2 separate regions of the Homo sapiens genome follow, and region 1 is linked to region 2. The links come from fine-mapping of genetic effects on gene expression. A gene starts in region 2. The other region holds a variant in brackets. All regions are shown on one strand. Distances are from middle to middle. Region 1 has its middle 55 kb from the start of AKR1C1. Region 2 holds the start of AKR1E2 (aldo-keto reductase family 1 member E2).

Evidence for each region. PIP is the estimated chance that this variant, and not a neighbour inherited with it, causes the effect. A credible set is the group of variants that fine-mapping cannot tell apart.
Region 1: its variant is the best candidate, but not a certain one, in a credible set for the expression of AKR1E2 in skeletal muscle (GTEx, PIP 0.59).

Annotation. Positions count from the first base shown.
Region 1 is chr10:4,903,122-4,913,595 of GRCh38, reverse strand. It overlaps the pseudogene AKR1C6P. Among named protein-coding and RNA genes, the nearest start is that of AKR1C1, 55 kb to the left of the region's middle. The variant T/C (reference allele first, on the strand shown) is at 4,871.
Region 2 is chr10:4,821,686-4,831,913 of GRCh38, reverse strand. It overlaps AKR1E2 (aldo-keto reductase family 1 member E2), which reads right to left and starts at 5,707. Exons shown (of 10, transcript NM_001040177.3): 1 at 5,551-5,707; 2 at 1,072-1,239. The coding sequence starts at 5,589. RefSeq lists a silencer at 5,201-5,280.

The DNA of each region.
Region 1 (10,474 bases), 82 kb before region 2:
CTCCCCTGAATTGCACTACCTTTTGAATCATATCTTAAATTCTTATATAAATAAAAACTAATTCTGAATTTCCTAGTCTAGTTAACTGATATTTCTGTGTAAACTTATACCAATGTTATTGTTATTGCTTAGAATATATTGGCTTTGCAATATGATGTGAGTTCCATTAAAGCAAGTTTCCCTCACTGTTCTACTTTTCATAAATTTTCTCTCTCACATTAATTTTTATATACACTTAAAGAAATTGTATCCAATTAAAAACAAGTCAGTTGGAATTTGAAATAGAATTTCTTGGATATATATATATTATTTTATGAGATTTACATTTTAATAGATTGTCTTCTCATCCAAAAATGTTACATTTTGTTTGTTCAGACCTTATTATATGCCTTCAATGATATCACATAGTTTTATTCTGTGGAATCTCTAGTAATCCTGTCAACTTTATTCCTAAGTATTTTGAAGTTGTTATCTGAGTGAATGCAACTTTTATTCATTTCCAATTCTAGATGCTTTGGCTCAAGTTTTGTGCATTTGTTTTGTATACAGTCACTACAGAAGTTTCCAGTTTATTCTACTGAGTGTTTTTTTTACTAGGATCTCTCGAATTTTCTAGTTGTATTATAATAATATCCAATATTTCACCAGTTGTTCTCTTTTGATATTGTATTTGCAGCATCCAAGACAATTTTACTATAGTTAGCCAGTTCTAAAGTATATATATTTTCACAGTTTAACATGTCTAATTCATGGCACCTTAAAATAATAATTAGCATTTTTCTTTCTTAGAGGTACACAAAATAATGCTCTGTAATTAATAGTGTCTGGTACTTGACAAAAATGGCAATAAAAATTTTAAAGCTGGACGTGATGGCTTACACCTGCAATCTCAGCACTTTGGGAGGCTGAGGTGGGCAGATTGCTTGAGCTCAGGAATTCAAGACCAGCCTAGAAAACATAGTGAAACACTGTCTCTACAAAAAATACAAAAATTAGCTGGGTGTGCTGGTGCGCAGCTGTAGACTCAGCTACTGAGGAGGCTGAGGTTGGAGAATCACTTGAGTCCTGGAGATTGAGGCTGCAGTGAGCCATGATCGCACCACTGCACTCCAGTCTGGGTGATAGAGTGAGACCTTTTCTCAAAAAAAAAAAAAATAAATAAAAATTAAAATGGTGATGTGATCTCTTTATTTGTACATTTTAATTCAATATTTTGCAACAGGAAAATTTACTGGGTGTTTTGGTAAATTATTTTTATTTCCATTTAAATAATTACTCAATTTATATTTTAGTTATAGTTTTATTTGCCTAAAATATCATTAAGCATCTATAGATATAAATTTATGTTTTTATTCTTTTAAAATTTATTGATGTCATAAATTATGTTACTAGATCTCCAGATATAAAAAATAATTATAACACTGACATTAAAACTTACAAATTGGCATATTATTTTATTTTATACAGTCTTGGATTCTATTAAGTAATATTTTTATTTAGAATTATGCATTTAGGCTCATCAGTGTAATTGAGCTATACTTGTATTTTTTCATTTGTTATTTTTTAGGTTTATTATCAGTTATGCTAGCCTCATAAAATAGAGAGTTTTCCATATCTTTTCCCACAGCCTGAAGTACCTTAAATAAATTTGAAACTATATTTTTGCAAAATTTTGGTCTTAGGAACACTTTATACTGTTAAAAATTATTGAGGACCCCCAAAGCTTTAGTTTACATGTGCTACATCCATTGATAGGCACCAAATTAGAAATTTAAACTAAAAAAAACTTTTAAATATTTATGCATCAATTTATTTAAGAAATAAACCTATTACCTATTAGCATAAATAATACATTTTATAACAAAATACAATATTTCACCAAACAAAAATCATTGAGAGAAAAATGATGTGGTTTTATAATTTTGAAAATCTCATGAGTAGCTTCACAGAGGACAGCCAGAATCTCAAATCTGCTTCTGCCTTAATCTGTTGCAATGTCATACACTGATGCAGAATTTCTGCTCCTTAGCTCAGATAAATCCAGGTTCTTGTATTATGATCAGAAAAATTTAGGCACATGGACAAATTGAAGGCTGAAGAGAGCAGAATTTTTTGGACAAAAAGGAAAAAAGAGAAAAAAAGTGAGGGGGGTCCTGCTAACAGGCTACCATCTCACAGATTGAGTACCAGGCCACCACACAGGAGCTAAAGAGGCCAGGCCCCTCCCCCTTGCACATGGCATGAACTTCCCATGGCTCCACTCCACTCTCCCAGCAGGCAGGCAAGTCCCCAGTCCGTTGTGGGCATGTGCAGACAAGACCCTGGGCACGTTCCCTCATCTATACAAAAGCATCTGATGTAAACACTTGTGGGGTGGCTTGGAGATTCTCTAGGGACCCTCCCTCAGCTGCCTCCTGCATCTATCATTCCCCACCTAAAGAAATACATCTAATGGAGCTGTTAGAGTAAGGATAAGGATAAGGCAAAGACAAATCTGAAGTGCGTCCTGCTGACAAGGGGTACTGTTTTGGGAAAACAGCAGTCAGATCTCCCTCAGAGTTTGATCTAAGGGTTCCCAGTAGAAGAGGGCATTGTCCAGGGCTCTAGTTGCATGACTGGTTGGAGTTTGTTGGCCTGAAGGTGAGAAGAGACAAACTGGGTTATTAGAAAACATGTATCAAAAGAAAACAAGGTGGGATAAGAAGAGCTCAAAAATCCTGAGGCCTTTTACTGGTTTGCACTGCAAGCGGGAGCCTTAAGAGCAAGGCTAGGAAAACATGCAGTTTCTAGGGCCTAATAAACAGGTATGGCTGGAAGACAAAACAGATTTTGAGAGGGCTCCATCCGCCTCTAATTCCTGAGGCTGCATGAGGAAATCCGAGGTCTCTCCCCACTCATGAGTATATTATGAGTGGCAAGGCAAAATGGAGAAAAATAATTCAGTCAAATGAGAAAAAAACCTTTTTCCAGGAAAGCAAGAGCCAAGAAGAAAAAACATAAAGGCCTTTTAAATATACCTGTAACTTGGACATTCACTTTTAATTAAGCTGAGCGCTCTTTAAGAAAACCCTTTATATCCCTGTTACCCCACTTTAGCTGTGCCAAGAGGCCAATATTTCTGGCTTTCAAACTTTACTAAAGGCTCAGGAAAAGGAAAATCCAAGGCAGTTTGTAGAATGGAAGACAATCAACAAATGGCAAAAGTCACACAGATATCAAACCAGAAAAGACTCATTCCCTAAGCCAGGATTGAACGTAGGCTGCCATTGCAAAATGGCAGAAGCTAAAATAAAGCACTACCATGTGGTTACAGGTCACAATTCCAAGGATGTAAAACAATATGGAGGCCTGCAGCAAAGTTTGCTGTTGACCATACAGAAAGACATGCAGAGCACACCAGATTGGCTGCAGCTTAAGACCAACCTTACAAATCCTTTTTTATAATTCAAACTTTACAGAGAATATAAACAGTGACAGCTGGGGCCCTGGCCTAGTAAAACGTTTTCTAAAAGGGGGAAAAAAGGTCTCACTTAAAAGTTAACTCCTGACCTGGTGGAGAAAAGAAAAAAAGCTTAAAGTGCAGGGGTGGGAAGATGTTTTTTAATTATGCAAATGGTTCCTACAACAGAGAGAGAAATTTAATTACTGTCTGATGGAGCTGGACCCCTTGGCCAGGGGTGGGGAAGACTCCGTAGATGCATTGCAGGGAACACTGGCCAGCTTGCCACATGGGGCCTGGGTCCCTGAGGCCACTTTGGGGCCCAGGCAGTGGCTGTGGCTCATTTCTGCCCAGCATGGCCGTTAGACACCACACGCACCTGTGGCAGTTATGGCCATGCATCCCAGTCAGGAGCGAAGGGGGGCAGGGAGCACCTGTGGCCATTGAGGTAGGGTGGTACACAGTTTCCTCTATCCTCATAAGAAGTCCGAGTACAAAAAGGCTTAGAAACAAAAGGGAAAATGATTTTTTTGGTTCACATCTTACTCACCCTTCCTCATGTCCCTGTACACGCCACCAAAATGATGCAGAATTTTTGCTTCTTAGTTCAGCTAAATCCCGGTTCTTGTGTCATGACCAGGATAAATGAGGCATGTGGACACATTGAAGGGTGAAGAGAGCAGAATGTATGGGCAAATAGGAAAAAGGAGAAAAAAAAAGCTGTCAGCAAATTGAGAGGGACTCCTGCTAACATGCTACCACCTCACAGATTGAGTACCAGGCCAACACACAGGACCAGAAGAGGCCAGGCTCCTCCTGCTGCACAGGCCATGAACTTCCTGTGGCTCCACCTTATTCTCCCAGTGCACAGGCGGGTCCCCAGTCCATTGTGGGCATGTGCAGACAACACCCTGGGCAGGTTCCCTCATCTGCACGAAAGCATCTGATGTAAACACTTGCGGAGTAGGTCGGAGATTCTCTGGGGACTCCCTCGACCCCCACCTTATCTGCGTCCTGCATCTATCAATACCACATAAGCCTCTGGGAAACTCCACTGTACGTTCACAAAAGAATGAGAGTAAAAAAGAAATAGGTTCTTAGTATTATCATAAGAATAATTTTTACATCATGCCCCCAGAAGGATTCTAGGGACCCCATAGGTTCTGGTACCAAACTTTGAAAACCACTACTTTAAAGTTTAGATAAAACCAACTCCCTATAGTCCTTTGTCACTACAGAACCTGCCTCTTTAATATTTGAAATTAGACAGATGCACTACAGTAAATATAAGTAGTCCCAGAAGAGAAAAGTGGTAGGGAAAAGCAACACAATACCCAGTTTGAATTACTATAGGGAAAAGAAAGTCTGCACTCTTGGTATAGGTAAGTGTTCATGAAGGAAGCTTGGTTTTGACACAGTAGGAGGTTGAGA[T/C]TGAAGGAGTCGCTGTGGGTAATATTGGATCTTGAGTGAATTAATTCTTCAGTCACAGTTGTGTCTAGAGAAGTAGCTCTTTAATAAGGTAGGCATATTTAAAGCCCCTAATGACAGAACAGGTGATATTTCTCATATAGAATCAATACATATAATTATCTTGCTCTCTGAACACGTTTTCTTGCTATAGGAAAACTAGAAAGATGAGCTGAAAGATAGGGAACAGAATGCTGAAAGGGAAGGGAAGGTTGATATTGGAGGCAATTTTGAAAAACTTCAAAAAGACACCAAGCATTAGATCTTACCTTGTCAGAGAATCACTTAACACAGCCTTTTGACAGTTGGTTAGAGTAGGTTCAAAACACGTTTTTGTGCCTGGAGAGAAATAATATCTACAATTAATTTTGCTTAGTTTTACACCAAGTTGATTGACTGTATCCTACCAATTAAAACACAGAAAGTAGTTTTTTCTGAATATTTACACATTGATTAAAATTTTGAAAAATCAAGTTTTCTTAAACAGTTTGTGGTGAAATTAAGAATTTTATATACCTGTAATTGCCCAGTGGGTTAACCTTGCCCACTCCCTAGACAGAGTCTATTTATCAAGACGGGAGAATTGCAATGGAGAAAGAGTAATTCCCGCAGAGCCCACTGTGTGGGGGACTGGAGTTTTATTGTTTATTATTAGATCAGAGTTTGTCAAGATAATCTAGCAGGTAGAGGCTGGGGAAGTGGGGAGTGCTGCTGATTGGTCAGGTTGGAGATGGAATCATAGGGGGTTGAAGGGTGGTCTTCTTGCTGTCTTTTGTCCCTGGGTGGGATGGCAGACTGGCTGAGCAGCTATATTATTGGTTTGGGTGGTGTCAGCTGATCCATGGAGTACAGAGTCTGCAAAATATCTCAAGTGCTGATCTTCACTTTTACAATAGTGATGTTATCCCCAGGAGCAATTTGGGTAGGTTCAGACTCTTGGAGCCAGAGGCTGGATGACCCCTAAACCATAACTTCTAATATTGTAGCTAATTTGTTAGTCCTGGAAAGGCAGACTGGTCCCCAGTCAAGAAGGGGGTCTTTTCAGGAAAGGGCTGTTATCAATTTTGTTTCAGAGTCAAACCATGAACTGAATTCCTTCCCATAGTTAGTTTGGTGCACGCCCAGAAATGAGCAAGGATAGCTTAAAGGTTAGAAGCAACATGGAATCAATTAGGTCTGATCTCTTTCACTGTCATGGTTTCCTCAGTTATAATTTTTGCAAAGCCAGGTTCATAGCTGATAAAACTGGCTGCAGATAAAACATACAAATGCAAAGATTGTAAAATATGTTACTATACTGACACTTAATCCTTTTTTAAAAGACCGTAATTTTTAAGATTATTTCTAGATTAGTTTTGTAACCTTCTAGGGGTATGGCTATTATAAAGAACTCCAACTATGATAAACTCAAAGAAACTTACACCAAAACACATTATAATAAAATTATTTAAAAATAATAAAAAGAGAGAGAGAACTTTAAAGGCAGTAAGACAGAAGCAACCAGAAACCTTGGAGGCCAGAAGGCAGTAGGTTGATATATTCAAAATACTGAAAGAAGTACATTAGAAGAAAAAAAAAAGTCAACTGAGGATTCTGTATCTGACAAAACTGCCATTCAAAAGTGAGGGAGAAATTAAGATATTTCCAGATAAACAAAAGCCGAGGGAGCTCATTACCTCTAAACCTGCTCTGCAAGAAATACAAAAAAGGGTCCTTCAGGTTGAAATAAGAGAAGCTAGACAGTAACTTAAAGCCACTTGAAGAAATCAAATCTCCAGTAAACATAAATACATGGGCAATTATAAAAGCTACTACTATTTTCATTTTGGTTTGTACATCCTCTTTTTATTTTCTACTAGATTTAAAATACAAATTTGTTAAAATAACTTATAATGTATGCTATTGGGCACACAATGTATAAAGATGTAATCTATTACATTATAATAAAATAGTGGACGGAGCTGTTACGAGCAGAACTTCTGTAAGCTTTTGAAGTTGTTGGCATAAGTTTATATTAGATTGTTATAACTTTAGGAGACTAAATGTAATTTCCATGGTAACAAAGAATGTATCTACAGAAGCTACACAAAAGGAATTGAGAAGGGAATCAAAATGTTTCATTAAAAAATTAACTACACACAAAGGAACATAGGGACGAAAGAAATGAGGAAGAAGAGAGCATAAGATATATAAGAAACAGAGAGAAAAGTGGCAGATGTAAGCCCTTTCTTATTAATAATTAACTTTAAATAGACTACACACTCCAATCAAAAGACAGAGATTGGCAGGATGGATAAAAAATTGAAACCACCCCAACTATATGATGCCAAAAAAGAGACTCATTTTAGATCTAAAGACACAAATAGCTTGAAGGTGAAAAGATAAAGAAAGATATTCCATAGAAATAATAACTACAAAAGAGATGGACTGGCTATATTAATATCAGATAGAATTGCCTTTAAATCAAATTTACAAGAAACAAAGAATAAATTATATTTTAATAAAAGACTACAGCAAGAATATATAATTCTAAACATTTATAGATCTAATAATAAACCCTCAAAATATATATAGCAAGAAAGTGACAAAATAGAAGGGAAAAATATACAGTTCTACAATAATAACTGGAGACTTCAATACCCCACCATCAATAGATGATTGAGCAACCAGACAGAAATGAAGAAATAGAGAACTTGAACAATACAATAAACCAACCAACTACACCTAATTAATATATAAAGAACACTCCACCCAACAAGCACAGAGTACACATTCTTCTCAACTGCACATGGAACATTCTCTAGGATAAACCCTATGCTGGGTCACAAAACACATCTCAATAGATTTTAAGAGATAGCTATTATATTAACTACCTTCTCTAACCACAATGAGATAAGGTAGATGTCAATAACAGAAGGAAAACTGGAAAATTCACTATTATATGGAAATTAGATGAAATAGTCTTAAATAATCAATAGGTCAAAGAAGAAATTACAGGGGAAATTACAAAGAACTTGGAATACAAATGAAATCACAACATTCCAAAACTTATTAGATGCAGTAAAAGTAATGCTCAGAGGGAAACTTATAGTTGTAAATACGTACATTGAAAAGAAGAAAGACCTCATATCAATAACTTAATTTTACATCATAAGAAGCTAAAAAAAAGAACAAGCTAAATTCAAAGCTAGGAGATGGAAGGAAATAATAAGGATTAGAGTGAAAACAATAAAAGATACTTGAGAAACAATACAGAAAATTCATGAAAAGAAAAGTTTGTACTTAAAAAAACCAGCAAATTGTCAAAGCTTTAGCTAGACTGACAAAAATATAAAGAGAGTAAATGCAAATAATTAAAATCATAAATGAAAGTGAGAATGTTACCTTATAAAATAAAAAGAATTATAGGAAAATGCTATCACAATTGCATGTCAATTAATAAGGTAACCTAGAAGAAATGGACAAATTCCCTAAAACACACAAATTATTTAAACTAATTGAAGAATAAATAGAAAATCTCAACAGAACTGTAACAAGTAAAGAGATTTAATCAGTAATCAGAACCTCCCAGTGGGGAAAAGTTCTGGACCAGATGGCTTCACTGGTGAATTCTACCATGCATTTAAAGAGAAATAATACCAATCCTGAAATGCTTCCAAAAACTTGAAGAGAAAGGAACACTTCCAAACTCATTCTATGAGGCTATCATTACTCTGATACAAAACTCAGATAAAGTTATTGCAAGAGAACTGTAGACCTTTATTCCCTGTGAATATTTATTCAAAAATCTGCAGTAAAATATTAGAAAATCCAATCCCATCACATATTAAAAGGATTATACATCATCATCCAATGGGACTTTAGGAACACAAGGATGGTTCAAAGAAGAAAATCAATTAATGTAATAAAACAATTAATATAATAAAGGTAAAAAACACACATAAAAGCCATATGTGAGAAATTCAAAGGGGAAAGACTGGAAGTGTTCCCCTTAAGGTGAGGAACAAGACAAGGATGCCTGCCTTCATCACTACTATTTAACATTGTAATGGATATTCTGGCTGGAGCTATCAGACAAGAAAGAGAAGTAAAAGGAATCCTCTCTTCACAGACGATATGACCCTACATGTAGAAAATCTCAAATAATTCATAAGAAATCTTCTAGAGTTAATAAATAAATTCTGCAGAGTTGCAGAGTATAAGATCAACACACAAAAAAATCAGTTGTGTTTCCATACACCAACAATGAACAACTCAAAAGGAAATTTTTTAATAGGTACAGAGTTTTTGCTAAGAATGACAAAAATGTTTTGGGTATAGAAATGGTGATGGTCACACAACATTGTGAATGCATTTAATGCCACTGGATTATATGTTTATGAATAGTTACAATAATAAATATTACATTGTATGTATGTGATCATAATTTTAAAATAAGAATTTATAGAAAAATAACTACAGATATAATAATACCCACTAACTATACAGAACTATGGCCCACAAGCCTAACGTGCTGCCCAGTTTTGTATAGCCCATGAGCCAAAAATGGTTTGTATATTTTTTAGCGATTGAAAATGTAAGAGATTTATATTATTTCATGCCATGTAAAATTACATGAATTAAAACTTTCAGTGTTCATGAATAAAGCTTTATTGAAATATCCCCAAAAAGACCAGCTGAAATTGCTGAACTTGGATAATTGATTAATTGATATTGTTTCTCAGCAGGTCCTATGTAGGGAAAAGAAAGAGAGATCAGATTGTTACTGTGTTTATGTAGAAAAGGAAGACATATCAAACTCCATTTTGATCTGTTCTAAGAAAAATTGTTTCTGCTTTGAGATGCTGTTAACCTGTAACTGTAGCCCCAACCCTGTGCTCACAGAAACATGTGCTGTATTGAATCAAAGTTTAATGGATTTAGGGCTGTGCAGGATGTGCCTTGTTAACAATATGTTTGCAGGCAGTATGCTTGGTAAAAGTCATCGCCATTCTCCATTCTCGATTAACCAGGGACACCATGCACTGCAGAAGGCTGCAGGGACCTCTGCCCAAGAAAGCCTAGGTACTGTCCAAGGTTTCCCCCCACTGAGACAGACTGAGATATGGCCTCGTGGGAAAGGAAAGACCTGACAGTCCCCCAGCCCGACATCCCACCCATAAAGGGTCTGTGCTGAGGAGGAGTAGTGAAAGAGAGAGGCCTCTTTGCAGTTGAGATAAGAGGAAGGCTTCTGTCTCCTGTTCGTCCCTGGGAATGGAATGTCTAGGTGTAAAGCAGACCAATCCCATTGGTTCTATTCTGAGACAGGAGAAAACCGCCCTGTGGCTGGAGTCGAGATATGCTGGCAGCAATACTGCTCTGTTACTCTTTTCTACGCTGAGATGTTTGGGTAAAGAGAAACATAAATCTAGCCTACGTGCACATCCAGGCACAGTACCTTTCCTTGAACTTATTCATGATACCGATTCCTTTGCTCACATGTTTCCCTGCTGACCTTCTCCCCACCTGTTGCCCTGCTACACTCCCCTCGCTAAGATAGTAAAAATAATGATCAATAAATACTGAGGG
Region 2 (10,228 bases):
AAATGCAAGCTTCTTTCACCTACTAAAATATCCTATATACAACACAAGTTGCACTCACATATGATACAAGCTGCCCTATTTAAAAATGAAACAGGGCTCCTCTGTCTCTAGGTAAAAGCACAGCTCCTGACAGGGCACAGCTGAACTTCCATGGCTTAGCCTATCCACCACTCAGCCTCACTTCTCATTACTCCTGCAACCTGACATTGTGTGGTCCAGAGAGACCAAGTGATTTGGTTTGGTTGTGTCCACAGCCAAATCTCATCTTGAATTGTAGCTCCCATAATCCCTACGTGTCATGGGAGGGACCCAGTGGGAGGTAACTGAATCATGGGGGCAAGTTTTTCCTATGCTGTTCTGGTGATAGTGAATAAGTCTCGTGACAACTGATGGTTTTATAAACGGCAGTTCCCCTGTACACTTTCTCTTGTCTGCTACCATGTAAGACGTGCCTTTGTTCCTCCTTCGCCTTTTGCCATGATTGTGAGGCCTCCCCAGCTATGTGAAACTGTGAGTCAATTAAACCTCTTTTTCTTTATAAACTACCCAGTCTCAGGTATGTTCGTACAGCAGCATGAGAACAGACTAATACACCAAGCTTCCTACAAACCCCTGCACCTGCCGTGCTGCTTCCTGCCTTATGCCTGTGCTCAAGCTGCTTCCTCCACACCCAGAGTTTCTCCTTCAACAGATGTGGGGTAGAATTTGGAATCTGCATTTAACAATCACCCCAGTGATTCTGAATTTAGGAATCGCTGTGTAAACAGACTTCATGAGGGCTAGGACTTTGTCCTATTCACCACTGTAGTCAAAGTGCCCATCACTAACTGAATTTTGATAATGTATTGTTAATTGGGGGATATCTGTGTACTCCTACCTGAATGACCAAGTAAATAATATGAAACAAACCTGCACACAATATAATTCAGCATGCTCATGAAGCTGTGAATATTCTTGTTTATTCCGATTTGAGTATGAAACAAAGTCATCAACTCCCATAAAGAAAGTAGAAAGCCCTCCAGAGATGTAGCATTACCCAAGCTCTGCCAGCCTTGCATAGAGAAGCCCTACCTTAGTGGCAATGAACAGATCCTCCCGTCTTACAGCGCCTTCCTTGATCTTGCAACGGATCCCTGCTCCAACCTCCCTCTCATTGTGGTAAAAGTAAGCACAGTCGAAGTGCCGGTACCCTGCGTCAATGGCCTCTTTCACTGCCTCGGTCACTTTCCCTGGAGAAGCCTGCAAAACCAACAAAACAAAGTGTCTTCTCACAGTCAGAGGAATCCAACACAAATCTCCCCTTTCACCCAAGCATGTGGACAACATAATACATAAAAAATTAAGTCACTAATTTGGTACTAGTATAATCAGTCTAAAAACAGGCAATATCAGTTATGAAGGAATTTATGAATAATCTAAGTTCCAACTCCTTTACATATTTTGGGAAAAAAAAACTATAGGTTATTTTTAGTGTCTGCAGAAAACTGAGCTAGATGGTATGCTTCCTGAATGATCAAAGCAATAAAAAAGTACAGAATGAATAATAACTGAGATGCAAAGAGGCTTAAGATTTATCCTGTATACTCAGATACCACAGCGTCCAATAATAAAGGCTGAGGTGTAGACTCACACGAAGGTATCCATACAAAAAGAAGTATATAACAAAACCTAAATGAATGTATAATGCTACAAGCAATAAGGTAGTTCAGAAAAGAGAACAGTCACTCTAAATGAAGCTCAGGCAAGGGAAGGGACTAGAACTAGGGAAGACTATGGGGGTGGGCGGGTTTGCAGTCTCATTAAACTGAAGACTGACAAGGGCTTTATAGTTCACAAACCACTTTCTCACTGGAGCTTCACGGTAACCCTAGGAGTTAGAGCAGCATAATTATCTTCATTTTATAGGCAACAGATTCAGAGTGGTTGAAAGCTAATGAACCAAGTATCCATCTTAAGTTAGAAAAAGAACCCAAGAAATTGGATGGAAAGATAAAAATATGATTAAGAATAACATCAATAAAATAGAAAACAAAGATGTAACAGAGAAGATCAACAAAACCAGAAGTCAGTTCTTTGAAAAACTTCAGTAAAATAAACAGACTTCTGGCTAGGTTGATGAAGAGGCCAACTTTTTAAAAAACTGACACGAATGGACAGTAAAACATGCAGATAAAATGGACTTAAAAGAAAATATTACCAATAACTATATGTCAATAACTTGGAAAAATGAGATAAAATGGGAAAATTCCTAGAAAAATTTAACCCAAGAATAAAGCTTGAATAGTTACATAATTATTAAAGAATGCAAGGAATTCAAAAAAAAGAGAAAACCACCAGTTTCATAAAATTTTCAAGAAAAAAATCATCTCAGTTTAACACAGACTTTCAAACAACAGAAAAAGACGGACTTATCTCAACTCATTCTACAAAACTAGCATAACCCTGAATCAAAATCAGACAAAAATATTAAAAGTCACACATTCATCTTATTCATGAATACCGTTGCAAAATTCATAAGTAAAATAAAAGCAAATTGGATGCAACAATATTTATGAAAAGATAATATACCACACCCATGTTGAGTGTATCTCAGATATCTAAGGATGGTTTGATATTAGAAAATCTGTAATTCATCAATATTAACAGATTAAAGTACAAAAACAAAAGTCAACTCAATCAATATTTGTTAAGATTCAATACCAGTTTAGATTCAAAATCTAAACTCCCAGTAAGTCGGGGAAAAGAATTAATCTGATAAAGAGTATCAATATTAAAAAATATCCATCTTACATCCTTTAAAATCAGGTACAAAACAAGAATGGCCACTGTGCTGGAGGTGCTTTCCAGAAGCACCTGAACAACTAAGAAGAAGCAATTTTAAGCTTAAAGAGTGGAAAAAAAGGAAAGTAAACTACCATTATTTGCTGATGATATGATCATTTGTGTAGAAAATCCAAACAAATGTAACACAAATTAACAGAAATAACAGTACAGTTTAGTAAAGTGGCTGGAAGTGTAATGAATATAGCAGGTGAAACAAGTAGAAAATGTAACTTCAGAGAAATATAATTTCCAGTAGTATAACACACTATCAAGAACCCAATAATAATTCCAACAAAAGACATATATTCTCTTCAGGAAAAACTATACAACCATATGAAAAGATGTTAGAAATGAACCATATTCAGGACAATTTATTAACAGAGAAGAATACCATGCTTGTAGAAAAGTTAAGATTTAACATTACAAAGGTGTCAATTATCTCCAAGCTGGTCTACAGATTTAATGTAGTTCCAATCAAAACCCCAATAAAGTTTCTCATGGAACCTTCTAAGCTAGTTCTAAAACTTACAGTGGAGAGTAAGGTGCCAAAATAAAAAGCCAGGACCCAGGTACATGCATCTGTCAAAACTCATCAAATTGTACACTGTAAATCTACAACAGCAGGGAGAGGTGACCTGCCCTACTAGGTATGGGCGCTTATCAAGGAACTGTAGTAATTAAGACAGCACCGATCAGGCACACAGATGGATCAAGTGGCCCCTAATAATGAAGAGCCCAGGCTGAGGTCTCCAGACATCTCACCGCTCCCCTTGCTCTCTTGTGCTTCAGCCATCATCTTGAGAACACTCCCTAACTAACCGCACGAGGACAGGAGATGTGCGGAGCCAAGTGGAGTAGCCCCAACCATCCCAACTGAGCCCAGCCAAGGTCCACAGAGCTGCTCTCCTGACCTCCCGTGTGGGAGGAATACACTTGCTGCTGTACACCACTGAGGTCTGGTGTTTGGCCATTGATGCAGCATTTCTGGGGCAACAGATAACGGATAGGTCTGTGATGTTTATTCACTATTAAAAATAGACGAGTAAAAATAAGCCTTTGCATAGACCAGTGATGAGTGATTATGATTAATCCAATTTGATGCACCTGCAGTCCAAGAAAAATAAATAGAATATTTTGACCTGTTAAGCACAGTTTTCACTAATTTTTCCTTATCCTGTGTGCACGAAAGTCTGGACTCCTGCACCAAATTGTTGCAGAAATAAAGGGAAGCAAGAGACTCAACAGTTTAATCCATCGAGTGCTTACTGAATGAAGGGCTGACAGATGCACGTCCTTCACTAGATGCTGAGAACCAATATGAACAAAACGACACTCCTAGCCTCTAAGAGTTGGTAAGCAGGTAAGAGAAATAATTTAAATAATATTTTCATGAGCAGGCCTTGAACATTCTGACTCCTTCAGTAACTAACTTCCTATATGACTTCTTATAGCTTTTATCAACAACTAAGTTTAGCTTTTTTTTTTTAAAGATCAAATTTTAAACGCTTTTTAGTCAGTGCTGTCTCAAATCACTGGCAGGAATTGTGAAGTTCAAAGCAGAGAAAGGTCGTAGAATAGAATGGTGGTTATAAGACGCTGGGGGCTGGGGGAGGTGAGGAAGGAGGGAATGGGGAGTTGCTGATCAAAGGGTACAAAGTTTCAAACACACAGGAGACACAGCTTTTAAGACTTACTGCGCACTAGGATGCCAACAGTCAACAATAATTTACTACACATGTGTATTTCAAAATAACAAGACATTTCAAACATCTTACCACAAACAATAATAACTGAGAGAGGTGATAGATATGTTAATTAGCTTGATTTAACCACATTGCAATTGTATACACGGCTCAAAACATTACGCTGCACCCCATAAATGCACAGAGCGATTATATGTCTCAGGCATCAGGGCAGGTTGCTTCTAAACAGGGAACAACATGAGATCCCAAAGTTTCTTTTAAAGCCTAATCAGCAATTCCAATTTTCCTTTTTTCTTTTTTTTTTTTTTTTTTCCAGCAAGGTCTGGCTCTGTCCCCAAGGCTGGAGTGCAGTGGCGCCATCAAAGCTCACTGCAGCATCGACTTCCTGGTCTCCAGTGATCCTCCCACCTCAGCCTCCTGAGTAGCTGGGACCACAGGCGCGCACCCCCAAGCCCAGCTGATTTGTTCATTTTTTGTAGAAACAGGGTTTCGCCATGTTGACCTGGCTGGTCTTGAACTCCTGAGCTCAGGCGATCCTACTGCCTCGGCCTCCCAAAGTGCTGGGATTACAAGCCCGCACCCCACGCCCGGCCCCAACTTTTCTTTCTCTCTTTGCTGGAGAGGAGGCTTCGAGGTTCCCTGTTCCGGCCGAGTCCAGCGCCGCCAAGGCCTCCCCTCGGCATCCCCGCTCCAGTTCTGAGTAACTTCAAGGGCTCCGCCTCTCCACAGAGCAGCCCCGCCCAACGCCGCGGCCGCAGCCCCAGAGTCTGAGGCTTGGCTGCCGAGGTTCCCGCTTCTCCCAGAGAGCGCCTCGGCGGGCAGCACCGACTCCGTTTTAGGAAAGGCCGGGCCGGGCTGCTTGTGGGCGGTGGGCGGCCACCTCAGCAGCGCCTTTCCCGGGCGTCGGCCAGGCGGAGGGGAGGCCGCCGCACTTCTCCCCAGCCCCGGCCTGGGTCCCATCGGGCGCCCCCAAGTCCCGCGCTCCCCTAGGTCAGGCGCGCCTCCCTGCCCGCGACCGCGTCACCTTCCAGGAGCTGAGGCCCACGGCTGGGATATCTCCCATGGCCGCCGCCGGCCGCCCCGCCGCCCCGCCGCCCCGCACGCGACTACCGACAGGCACCGCGCGAGCTACTGCGGCGCTGGCGACCCGCCGTTGCGACTGGCTGGAAGTGCCTTGTGACGGCTGACACTCCGACAATGGCTGGAAGCATGAACGCAGGGCTTCCTGACTGGCTGCTGGTGTCGCGCGCCGGGCACTGACTGGCTGGTTGTATTAAGGACGGGCACCCCGATTGGCTGGAGGCGCAGAGCCAGCTGGAGTCCCAAATGGCTGGAAGCACCGCGCTCTGGACATCCTGATTGGCTGGCGGCATAGACGACGGAATTTTCGATTGGCTTGCAGAGCCACGCAGGAGCAGGGAAGGTTTTACAATCGGCTGGCATTGCCGCTCACGCCCCCACCTTAGGTGTGACCTCCTGGTTGCCTTCTCCCTCGCACCGGGTGCATATGCGACTGAGGGTAGGGCAGAGGTGCTAGGTTGATGGGCAGAGAGTCTTCACCGTTCCAGGGCCTCGCCATGGCCGGGCCATCCTAGGGCAAGCTCTAGGGTCAGGGTGCAGAGTCCTGCGTCCCCTGGGGCACAGGGTGCGCGGGAGTGGGTCCCCGCTCTCTTGTACCAAGGATGGCCATTCTCAGGTGCCCCGAGGCCCCCAGTCTGGGAGAAGCGTGCCTGGCCTTGGTTCCCCGTCAGGGAGCCACTGTGCCCTTGGAAAATGCCTTCCACTCCCTGGGTCCTGGCCCAGAGCGGCTGGGGCTTGCAGGACAGCGGGGGTCCTGGGTGGTGCAGGGGAGGCCGAGCCCTGCATGTAGAGGGGAGCGTCCTTGCTTGCAGCCTCGGGCCCCCGTTTGGAAGTGGATGGGGTGGACTGGACACCCCCCTTATGAGTGGACTGGGCTCCCCCAGGGCCAGTGGAGGGAAAGAGGGGTCAAGGGAGCCTTCCGACGCCCCTCTTATCTCTCCTGGAGCTTACAGCTCCCCCTTCATTGCCCCCCTCAGCCCTGGGAGTCCTACTGCCTTGAGGACACCCACACCCAGATGAGGGCTTTGTTTCTAGGTTCCTTGCCTGGGTCTTCAGTGCTGGCCATCAGGGGAGGCGCTGCCCATTCTGCTCAATGGGGCGGCTGCAGCCAGAGAAACTCCCAGGGTCACTCTGGGTGTCCCCCTGCCTCCCACCCAACTTGCATCTCCTGTGAGCATCCATCTCCTCAATGTGAGCTCCTCACAGGTGGGAAGGGGGATCTTCGATACTCTCATTTATTCATTCAGAAACTGTGCCTGGAGCACTCACCTGTGCACGGGGCAAGTTAGGCCAGGGTGCAGTGCTGAAAATGACCTGCATGGGCCTTGCCCTCAGGAGCTCACCATCTGTAGGAATGAATGGACAGAGCATAAAAGCAAATGCATGAGAAAAAAAAAGAGCAGGTGCTATAGTAAAATAAAGCAGGTGCTTGTGGTGAGAGGCGGAAGGGACAGAGTGAGGGAATCCTCAACACCTCAATGAAGTGGCATTTATGCTGCAAACAGAAAGGCAAAGAGTGAGGGAACCAGCCCTGCACAAGTCTGGGAACAGTATTCCTGGGGGAAGCTCTACTGCACTGCAATCGTGTATCATGCTATTTCATTGTTTTAACAGAAATTCCATAAGTCTATGACGTTGAGCATCTTTTACTCTGCTTCTTTGCTATCTGTATATCTTTGATAAGGTGTGTTTTCAGGTCTTTTGCCCATTTTTTATTTGGGTCATTCATTTTCTTATTGTTGGATTTTAAGAGTTCTTTGTGTATTTTGGATAAGAGTCCTTTATTAGATGTGTCTTTGTAAATATTTTCTCCCAGTCTGTCTGTAACTTGTCTTTTCATTTCCTTGACATTGTCTTTAGCAAAATAAAAAAATTTTTATTTTAACGAAGTGAGCTTATCAATTATTTCTTTCATGGCTCATCCCTTTGATGTTGTATTTTAAAAGTCATTGCAAAGACATAAGAATTATATAATGGACTTCGGGGACTCAGGGGGAAGGCTGGGAGGGGAGTGAGAGATAAAAGACTACACATTGGGCACAATGTACACTACTCTGGTGATGGGTGCACCAGAATATCAGAAATCACCACTAAATAACTTTTCCATGCAACCAAACACTACTTGTCGCCCCAAAACAATTGAAATAAAAATTAAAATTAAAAAATCAGAGACTAGACAGAAAAAAATTAAAATAAAAATTAGTAAATTAGAATATCCTGGAACACAGTAATCAATATAAAAAATAAAAATAAAAAAAATCACTAAACCCAAGATCATCTAGATTTTCTCTTATTTTCTAGAAGTTTCATAGTGTTGTGTTTTACATTTAGGCCTTCGATCCACTTTGAGTTAATTTTAATGAAGAGTGTGAGATCTGTGTCTGGATTTATTTTTTTGCATGTGGATGTCCAACATCATTTGTTGAAAAGACTGAAAGTTCTCCAGTGTATTGCCTTTGCTCCTTTGTCAAACATCAGCTTATTATATTTGTGGTGATCTATTTCTGTGCTATTTTGTTCCATTGATCCATTTGCCTGTTTCATAAATACCACACTGTCTTGATTACTGCAGTAGATTTATTGTAAGTCTTGAGGTCAGGTAGTGTGAGTCCTCTAACTTTGTTCTTTTCCTTCAATATTGAGTTATCTATTCTGTGTCTTTTGCTTCTTCATATGAACTATGGATTCAGTTTATCCACAAAATAATTTAGTAAGATTTTGATGAGATTACACTGAATGTTTAGATCAGTTTGGGGAGAGCTGATGTCTTGACAATATTGAGTCCTTGTATTCATGAACATGGAATATCACTCGATTTATTTATTTATTTTTACATCTTTCATCAGAGTTTTGTAGTTTTCCTATATAGGACTCATATGTATTTTGTTAGATTTATACATAAGTATTTCATTTTCGGGGGTGCTAATGTAAATGGTACTGTGCTTTTAATTTCAAATACCACTTGTTGAATTCTGGTATATAGGAAAATAGTTGATTTTTGTATATTAATCTTGTCTTCTGCAACCTTGCTATAATTGCTTAGTAGTTTCAGAAGCTTTTCATCAATTCTTTGGAAATTAAATTAAGATAGCAAATAATGTCACCTGTGAACAAAGACAGTTTAATTTTTTTCTTCCCAAACTGTATATCTTTTTTTTTTTTTTTTTTTTTTTTTTTAGACAGAGTCTCACTCTGTCACCCAGGCTGGAGTGCAGTGGCGGGATCTCGGCTCACAGCAACCTCTGCCTCCTGGGTTCTAGCGATTCTCCTGCCTCAGCCTCATGAGTAGCTGGGATTACAGGCATGCATCACTATGCCTGGCTAATTTTTATGTTTTTAGTAGAGATGGGGTTTCATCTTGTTGGTCAGGGTGGTCTCAAACTCCTGACCTCATGATCCACCCTCCTTGGCCTCCCAAAGTGCTGGGATTACAGGCGTGAGCCACTGCACCCAGCCTGTATACCTTTTAGTTCCTTTTTTGTCTTATTATATTAGTTAGGATGTCCAGTACAGTGTTGAGAAGGAGTGGTGAGGGGACATTTTTTGCCTTTTCTTGGTAGAAGTGCTTTTTAACAGTACAGTTTCCCCATATGTGCCCTATTGAATCAGAAGGTTATGGTGGGTGTTTGGGACCTTTGGTCTGGAAGATTTCTAACGGCCTCATTGACAGATGCATTTGTATGTCATGGTATAACTTCACACTCAAAATACTTTTGTCTTTGTTATGGCATTCTGCTATAGCTGCTAAGATGCTGAGGCTTAAGAAATTCTTCATGAACACTTATTACCTCGCTCTCAGCTATTGTCTTTTTACCCTTGTCACTGTCTTTAGTGGATACTGGGATTTGCTGATTGTAATTGTCGTCCTGGTGATCTGCTTCCTGTGTGATATACTAGATCCATTAGTGTCTCCTGCATATCCCGTGGCTGGGGGTGTGGAGAGTAATAGATAAGATAGCCTCCCATGGAAGTAGCTAAAGGGTTTGTGTGTTTGGGAGACGAGATTAGGAAAGTTCACAAGTAATAATATAAACTAGAATAAAAAAATAGCGTGGGATAAATATAAATGATATTCAGTGGGACTCTAAAAGGAAGAAATTGTATGAAGTTGTGAGGGATAAATGATTATTGAAATCAGCCTTCAAGATAAGAAGTACTGATGAATAGAAATGGGGAGAAATAATTTTTTGGTGGTTGAGCAGTTTTATTTAAAGATTCTCAACATATAACACATTGTCAAGGGAAAAGGGAGCATGAATATGAAGTGCAGCATGAACACACTTTTTAAAAGTGCATTTTGGTAGCTCCATGGATAGCCTGTTCTTAAGGATGAGGGAAGTTAACGCTGGGAGTGAGTGAATATTTTAGGTTTAGATATAGGCATTTCTTTATCTAGTTGCTTTATTGGGTATCTTACACTGAATAATAATGTATAGGGAATAGTCTCTCTGGGGCATCTTTGCACAGTGGCTCATTCTAAATCCCCATCACTGGTGCATGCATTGAGGGAATAACACACATCTGCTACAGCCTGTGTGTATGTTTCTCAGTGTTTGACACAGCTTCACACAACCTTCATCATCACCTCAGCAAACTCAGGGCTAGACCTTTTGAGACAACAG